Linked DNA regions of Homo sapiens: all the other regions are linked to region 3. The links come from fine-mapping of genetic effects on gene expression. A gene starts in region 3. Each other region holds a variant in brackets. All regions are shown on one strand. Distances are between the middles of the regions.

Region 1 (2,715 bases), 140 kb before region 3:
TGCCCTGGGGTCATTCGTGGCCAGTGCACCCCAGCAGGCCCCTATTGCCCTCCCCTTCCTCACTGCCACTTCCGAGGAAACCTTGCCCACCAGGGGTGTGACTGTCCATGGGTGATGATACTTTTTTTGTTAGATACAGGGTCTGACTCTGTTGCCCAGGCTGGAGTGCAGTGGCATGATCATAGCTCACTGTAGCCTCAACCTCCCCAGCTCAAGCAATCCTCCCACCTCAGCCTCCTGAGTAGCTGGATCTACAGGAACACACTGCCATACCCAGCTAACTTTTAATTTTTTTGTAGAGATGGAGTTTTGTTATGTTGCCCAGGCTGGTCTCAAACTCCTGGGCTCAAGTGATCCTCCCACCTCAGCCTCCCAAAGCCCTGGGATTAGAGGCATGAAGCACCGCACCCAGCCTTGGTGTTGACACTTCTTGGTGCCTGATTTCCCCTCTGAACTTCATGACAGGCCTTTAGGGCCAGAGGGTCATCTCTAACAGAGCCCAATTTACAGATGAGGAAATTGAGGCCCAGAGGCAGAACAGTGTTACCTTGTGGGCCCTTGAGTCACTGCAAAAGGAGCCTGTTTGGCTGGTCATCTCTGTCACAGCTCTCTTGTCACTTATTAACTTGTTGGCTTCCTTAAGAGGCAGACAGGGAATTCCGAACAGACACTGGGCCACACGGGGCTTAAGCATGCAGGTGCCACCGTTACTCAGATCCCAGTTCCAGCCCTGCTTTCCCACTTAAGAGCTCTGGAACCTTGGGCCAGTTACTTAACCACTTTGAGCCTCAGTTTCTCCCTCTATAAATGGGCGATAATAATTCCCACATCACAGGGTGGTTGTGGAGAAAGTAAAGTGCCAAACTTAGTACCTGCTAAATAGTAAGCAGTTGGTAAATATTAGCTATTATTATTTAAGTTATCCCTGTTCTTTCCTTTCATTCACATTTATTCAATGTTTTGTGCCAAGCACAAGTGATAAAAAGTCCCACCTTTCTGGGAGACAACAGCCTAATCTAGAAGCCAACCAAGTAAATAGTTATAATATAGGGTGATAGGGACTCGAACGGGACTACATTCTGCGTCCAGGATGGCAAATAGGTGCCATCTCTAGTCAATGAGTAGCAGCTCCCTGGAGTGCTGCTTTGAAAAGCATTCTAAAGCTGTATCCAGGATTGTGGGAAAGAGTGCTGTGATCAATGAGTGACTTCTGCCACCAATCTAGGAAGGAATACTAACAGTACATGTACCATCCTTGCCGTAAATGTCATAGGAGCACTGAGAACAGAGCGGCTAGTTTAGTCTTGGGATAGAATAAGGGATCTGAGCCAGGCATGGTGGTGCACACCTGTAGTCGCAGCTAGGCTGAGGTGGGAAGATTGCTTGATCCCAGGAGTTGGAGGTTGCAGAGAGCTATGATCACACCACTGCACTCCAACCTGGGTGACAGAGCAAGACCCTGTCTCTAAAAAATAAATTTAAAAAAATAAGAGGATCTGGT[A/G]AAAACCTTATAGAAGGGATAGCATTTGAGTCTTAATGGATGGACAGGAAAGTGCTAGAAAGAAAGAAGAAACAGCATATGAGGTATATTAGGTGAGAGGTTGGGTAGGAAGAATTACAAGGATTTTTCTGTGGCTGTTGCCCAGGGTAGCAGTAGAAATCAGGCTGGAGAGGGACACAGAGGCTGAAGAGGTAGGCAGTCAAGGGCCTTCAGTCCTCAGCTCATGAGTGACCTGTATCCTGAGCACTGGACATGGGTTACCTGAATCCCGAGCACACATTTCCCACCTCCCGCAGCATTTCCAGCGGCCCCATCCAGAAGCCTGGCATCTTTATCAGCCATGTGAAACCTGGCTCCCTGTCTGCTGAGGTGGGATTGGAGGTGAGTGACGCTGGGCCGGCCCCAGTGGGGGCCCACTGGAAATTGGGTCAGACTGTGATCCCGCGGTGACAGGGGCAGGTGCCTTTCCACATGGCCCTCTTTCAGTGGACACTGAGGGAGTAGGAGCCCTACCCACCCTGCAGAGAAGGCTTCACAGACTGGGGATGTTTGACCCTTCTGCAGCCTTCCCCAGCTCTGATAGTTGTTGGTCACGAGCTTGGGAATGTCGTAATGGTAATCAAAGAGCGGACCTTCAGTGTCCACTTGCATCAGACATTGTTCCATGCCCTTTACACTTCACAAGAATGCTGAGGGTTAAGTACCACCATTATCCCCACTTTACATATGAGGAAACTGAGACCCAGAGAAAGTATATGATTTTTCCAAAATCGTGTACCTCATATGGTAGGGCTGGGATTCAAACCTAGGTGGTCCAATCCCAAAGCAGGAACCCTTAACCTCTTCTTTGGACAAGTTACTTCATGTCTGTTTGCTTACCTGTAAGATGGGGATAATACAGGCTTTCTTCCAAGGTTGTTGTGTGGGTTAAAGTAATTAATATGTATACTAGAGCTGTGCCAAGCACATTGTAAGTGATCAGTGAATGTTAGCTATTCTGTTATGACGATTCAACACAGCCTGTGCTAAATGAGAAGCTCAAAGGTTCCCGCATCTGCAAACTGTGATTTTTAAAGCAAATGTCATCAAATTTAGCCAAAGAAATGAACATGTAATGGTATAATATTTGATAGTTGATAAGATAGTTATGAAGTAGGGGAGTGCCAGGGTCAGCTTTAAGCCCTCCCAGAGCTCCACCAGAGCTTTCCAACTGC
Region 2 (2,756 bases), 40 kb before region 3:
GTCTTCAGCCTTGAGGAAGGTGACACCCCTGTCTCATGGGACCCTGGCAGGTACTGGGAAGCTGGAAGGAAGGAGTAGCTGTTGGAATGAAGTAGCTGATAGAGAGGGTAGCTTGCAGGGGGAGACTCTAGCATGGGTTCAAAGATGGAATGGGGCATAACTCAGCAAAATTATGCTCTAAGGAGTATCTGACCAGGCAGTAGCTGGTTAAACAGGGATTAGCTCCCATTTCCACAGTCGGCTGTGCTGACTCAGTTTCTTGACCAGGGTGTTGTGGGGTCTGAAGATCACCCCTCCTCCCACCACCCACTCTCCAGCCCTATGATTCTGTGTAGAAACCACAGATTTAAGAACGCTGCACCTGCCTGAAAACTGTTGCACTGATCCCAAAGCGTTCATATTTTCAAACACTCTGGATCCCACTGTTTCCAGGAATGGAACACCAGAGTAGCAGAGGCCTTTTCAGTGAGGCAGCTCAGGCTCTGGCTGAAGGTGGGCGCAGGACACTACCTGAAGCTTCACCCCAAGAGATGAGGGCCAGCTCCACTCTTCCCAGTCACCGCCTGTGGGGGAGGGAGGCTGGACAGGGCATGAAGGCAGAGCCTGGTGGTCTGCCCCTCCCATCTAGGGGTGGCGCACAGAAAGGGAGACTCCAGGCCACAGCTCACTTACACCCCAGAATAACCTTGCCTTGAGGGTGGGATGGCTTGTCTGCCCCAGGCCTGTTGGACATTTAGCAAAAGAGAAGAAAGGGGAATACAAACAATCCTGAGCTTCCCAGAAAGCTTTCACACCTCCAGGATGGGAGAGAATGAACTAGAAGAGTGAAGCTTCCAGTGCTTCCTCAGGTCCACAGGGAAATCTGGACAGGGGAGAGGGTAGGAATAGCCGCCTCCCCCGTGAGTAATGACACCTCCTCCAGCAGGCTGTTATGGGGATCCGATTACATAATGCTACAAAACAGTTAACACAGTGTCTGGCATTTAGTGTATGCTCACAAAATACTAGCTATTGATTCTTTACCAATCCTAGTCCTAACTAACCTTAACCCTGACCAATCCAACACCAACCATCCTTCAGTCTAATAACCCAGACTAACTAACTTCAACATTAACCCTAAAACTAACCAATCTCACCTCCAATCCAGACCCCAGCCTATTCCAGCTGACTGGTCAACCCTAGCAAACCCTGGTAACACCAATTACCTGCCCCCATGCCCACTGGTCTGCCCCCTTCAGTGTGGGCTTTGTGGGACTATACTTCAGGCCTGAGATCCTGCTCAGAGCTCTCTATCAGGCTGCGCCCTCTCCCCTCCCCTCTGCCCCTGGCAGGGGTGAGGGGTGTCTCTGTGCTTCCCGAGCAGCGTGCAAAAGCTAAGCGAGTTCCTGTCCAGTGCAGAGATCCGTGAGGAGCAGTGTGCCCCCCATGAGCCCACACCTCAGGGCCCAGCCAGCAAGTACCAGGCGGTGGTGAGTGCCCGGCCTCCCCTTGCTACTCCCAGCATGGTCCTCTAAGGCCCAAAACTTGGGCCTGCTGTGTCGGACTTCTGCCTTTTTTCCCAGGAAGAGGGGCTCCCTTCCCTACACAGCTCCCAGCCCAGTGGGTCCTCACCTCCAAACCACCCCCAGCCCCTCAGGGTTGTGAACCGCAA[G/A]CGTCCAGCCCGGGAGGATTGTCGGGGCCTCACCGGCCCACTGCAGAGCCTGGTCCCCAGTGCAGATGGCGATGCTGACAACTGCTGTGTCCAGGTGAGTCCTGCTGCCCCATGCCTGGCCACCCAGCACCAACTCCCAGAGGGAGCTCAGCACCTGGAAAGCCAGAAAGCTGCATGCTTAGTCCTCTGCAGAGGTCACCCTGCCTGCCTGTACGGTCCATAGGAGTCCAGAAACCAGGGACCACCAAGTGGGGGGACCCCCAGCCTTAGGCAAGGGTCAGCATGAGAAGGCCAGTCTCCCACTCCCCTGCTCTGGAAGTGATCCAGGGGCTGGAATCAGTGTCTTTTGGCTTTCATGGAGGAGGGGAAGCCAGAGACTATTCACTGGGAACTGGCTGCCTTTCTGTTCTCTCCTGGGCGGTGGGACACGCCTAATGAAGATCATGGGAGGCTACTTCACGTGGACCCCAGATGGAATCCCCACACTGTCCAACATCACCATTCGTATCCCCCGAGGTATGGCCCAGTCCACCCCTCCAGCATGCCCCTCCCCATGTCCCACTGAATAACATAGAGATAAAAAGACAAAGCTGCATTTATTGAGCACCTACTCTCTGCTCATTCTTGGTGTATGCCCTGGGTATATTATAGAAGGGGAAGGCTACATTCTAGAGGCTTCCGTGTGCTGGGTGGGAGTGAAGCACTAAGGACAGGGTAAAATTGCCAGCCTTAATGTCAAACCATCCATTGCAGACAGTATAGGTAATGCACAAAAAGATCAGAAGTGGGTAGCCAAGGAACGCAAGTGGAAGTGATGGGGTTTCTGAGAATGGACAAAGGCCCTGAGGCCATGAGGCAGGAGGATTTTCTGGCAGAGGCAGCCATGAGCAAAGTATGGAGGTGGGTTGGAGGTGGGACCCAGGATGGTGTTTCTTGGGACCACAAGGAGCCTGGGCTCATACTAGGAGCATGGGAAAGGAGAAGCGAGTGCTTAGGAAGGGTGGCGGGGCAGGAAATCAGAGAGGGGGAAGGACCTGGGGAGCCAGAGGAGGATGTTGATTTCCAGAAGGAAAGGATTAAAGAGGGAGAGGACTTGCTGGGGATT
Region 3 (2,736 bases):
AATACCACCCATGACCTAACGTGGAAGAAGTCAGGTGACAGGTGTGAGAAAGTGTAAAGCAAGTGGCCTCGGCTCAAACCTTCTTTAAAGTAGGGCCGGAATGGCTGAGAAGATGGAGCCGCCCAGGCTGCCCCACAGCAGTAGCAGGTGTTAAACTGTGCTCCTTTCCTGCCGAGGCCTTTTTTTTTTTTTTTTTTTTTTTTTTTTTTAATGAGAGGGAGTCTGAGCTTCCATCAGATTGTCAAAGGATTCAAGACTAAGATTAAGAGCATCCCCCAAAGAGAAGCAGCTGCAGGTTGAGAAGTCCTCGGACCGCCTAATTTCCGCCAGCCCTGGGATTGGTGGCGCCGCCTCTCAGCGCCTCCTTTCCCGGGGAACCTGCAAACCTGGCGCGGCCGAGAGGCGGATTACTGACCCAAATACGGATGGGGATATTGGGGGAGGGGAGCCAGGGCGACAGGGCGGCGGCCCCAGACTGGGAGGGCGGGTCACAGATCCCTCCCAGCCCCCCACTTTCGTAGAGCGTGGGCAGGAGGAACCTCTGGGTTCCGCGGATCAGAAAAACTCCAAAGGCCGGGTTGTGAGTCCCGGGAGGGGAGGTGGAGGGCGGGGGCGGGGAGGGGCGCGGGAGGGGCGGGGGCTTGCTCCGGCCCCGCCCCCTGCGCTCCGGTGCAGGTCGGGCTCCCCCTGGCGGTCCCCGGCCCCGTTCCTCTCCTCGTGCGCCCCCCTCCCGCCGTCCTAGACCCCTGCCTAGCCCAGGTCGGTCTCCGCGGACCCACGGACGGACAGACAGACGGGAGGACGGCCAGCCGCGAGCGCCCGGGCGGCGGGAGGGGGCGGGGAGGCGACGGCCGTGGCGTGAGGAGCAGGAGCAGGTGCAGCGGCGGCGGCGGGCGGGGCCGGGACCCGGCGCGGAGCGGGAGCCGCGGCGCGGGCGGGCGGCAGGGACCGGGAGGCCGCGACTCGGAGTCAGCCCCGCCGGGTCGCGCGCAGGTCCGGGGAGCCGCGGTTGAGCCGGGTGGGGTGGTGACTCCAGAGAACGCAGGATCCCAAGGAGACAGAGAGGACGAGAGCTGGAGGGGGATCCGGAAAGCGGCGGGGGCGCTCCGGGAGGGGTGGAGTAGGACATAGGGGGCGCACCTGGAGGAGAGACGGGGCGGGGGTGGCCAGGACCTGAGCTGGAGCCTGGGAGCCCGAAGGCCAGACAGGTGAGGCGGGAGACCCGGAGGTGGGGGTGAGGTCCGGTTAGTGGGAGAGATCCGGAGGTGTTAAGTTCTGAGCTGGGCTGGGAAGGCAGGCTGGGCGGGGAGAAGGGCTCTTAGCGGGAGGCCCAGGGGTGGTCAGCTGGTGGGGGAAGCTGGGGGAGGACGCAGGGCCAGGTGGAGAGCCGGCAGGGTTGGGGGCTCCCTAGGCGCCAGGCAGGTGGGCTCAAGGGTGAGGCTGTTTTTTTTGTTTTGTTTTTTGTTTTTGAGACGGAGTCTCGCTCTGTCGCCCAGGCTGGAGTGCAGTGGCGTGATCTTGGCTCACTGCAACCTCCGCCTCTCGGGTTCAAGCGATTCTCCTGCCTCAGCTTCCTGAGTAGCTGGGATTACAGGTGCGCACCACCATGCCCGGCTAACTTTTGTATTTTTAGTAGAGATGGGGTTTCACCATGTTGGTCAGGCTGGTCTCGAACTCCTGACCTAGTGATCTGCCCTCCTCAGCCTCCCAACGTACTGGGATTACAGGCGTGAGCCACCGCGCCCGGCCTGAGGCTGGTATTAAGAAGTGAAGTGGGACCCAGGTGGAGGTAAGGAAGAGTCTGGTGGGGAGTTATCTCAGAAGTGAGGCCAGCACAGGCTGAGTGCAGCCCCAGGGTGAGAAGGTGCCCACCGAGAGGACTCTGCAGTGAGGCCCTAGGCCACGTCCGAGGGGTGCCTCCGATGGGGGAAGCCCCTCCCTGGGGGTCACCGGAGCCATGCTGTCCCGCAAGGGCATCATCCCCGAGGAATACGTGCTGACACGCCTGGCAGAGGACCCTGCCAAGCCCAGGTACCGTGCCCGCCAGCGGAGGGCCCGCTTTGTGTCCAAGAAAGGCAACTGCAACGTGGCCCACAAGAACATCCGGGAGCAGGGCCGCTTCCTGCAGGACGTGTTCACCACGCTGGTGGACCTCAAGTGGCCACACACATTGCTCATCTTCACCATGTCCTTCCTGTGCAGCTGGCTGCTCTTCGCCATGGCCTGGTGGCTCATCGCCTTCGCCCACGGTGACCTGGCCCCCAGCGAGGGCACTGCTGAGCCCTGTGTCACCAGCATCCACTCCTTCTCGTCTGCCTTCCTTTTCTCCATTGAGGTCCAAGTGACTATTGGCTTTGGGGGGCGCATGGTGACTGAGGAGTGCCCACTGGCCATCCTGATCCTCATCGTGCAGAACATCGTGGGGCTCATGATCAACGCCATCATGCTTGGCTGCATCTTCATGAAGACTGCCCAAGCCCACCGCAGGGCTGAGACCCTCATCTTCAGCAAGCATGCGGTGATCGCCCTGCGCCACGGCCGCCTCTGCTTCATGCTACGTGTGGGTGACCTCCGCAAGAGCATGATCATCAGCGCCACCATCCACATGCAGGTGGTACGCAAGACCACCAGCCCCGAGGGCGAGGTGGTGCCCCTCCACCAGGTGGACATCCCCATGGAGAACGGCGTGGGTGGCAACAGCATCTTCCTGGTGGCCCCGCTGATCATCTACCATGT

Which allele goes with the higher level. Alleles are on the strand shown, and positions count from the first base shown. SD is a standard deviation of normalised expression in the study named. Not every link is listed here.
For the expression in putamen of the gene that starts at base 1,390 in region 3, A is the high allele of the variant in region 2 and G is the other (moderate effect, 0.69 SD a copy in Braineac2).

What was found. PIP is the estimated chance that this variant, and not a neighbour inherited with it, causes the effect. A credible set is the group of variants that fine-mapping cannot tell apart.
Region 1: its variant is the best candidate, but not a certain one, in a credible set for the expression of KCNJ11 in thyroid (GTEx, PIP 0.53).
Region 2: its variant is the best candidate, but not a certain one, in a credible set for the expression of KCNJ11 in putamen (Braineac2, PIP 0.50).

Annotation. Positions count from the first base shown.
Region 1 is chr11:17,523,618-17,526,332 of GRCh38, reverse strand. USH1C (USH1 protein network component harmonin) reads left to right here. Exons shown (of 27, transcript NM_153676.4): 9 at 1,798-1,882. Among named protein-coding and RNA genes, the nearest start is that of USH1C, 19 kb to the left of the region's middle. The variant A/G (reference allele first, on the strand shown) is at 1,502.
Region 2 is chr11:17,427,278-17,430,033 of GRCh38, reverse strand. ABCC8 (ATP binding cassette subfamily C member 8) reads left to right here. Exons shown (of 39, transcript NM_000352.6): 13 at 1,364-1,469; 14 at 1,629-1,745; 15 at 2,092-2,167. Among named protein-coding and RNA genes, the nearest start is that of KCNJ11, 40 kb to the right of the region's middle. The variant G/A (reference allele first, on the strand shown) is at 1,652.
Region 3 is chr11:17,387,313-17,390,048 of GRCh38, reverse strand. KCNJ11 (potassium inwardly rectifying channel subfamily J member 11) reads left to right here and starts at 1,390. Exons shown (of 1, transcript NM_000525.4): 1 at 1,390-2,736. The coding sequence starts at 1,958. RefSeq lists silencers at 310-409, 490-999 and an enhancer at 2,208-2,736.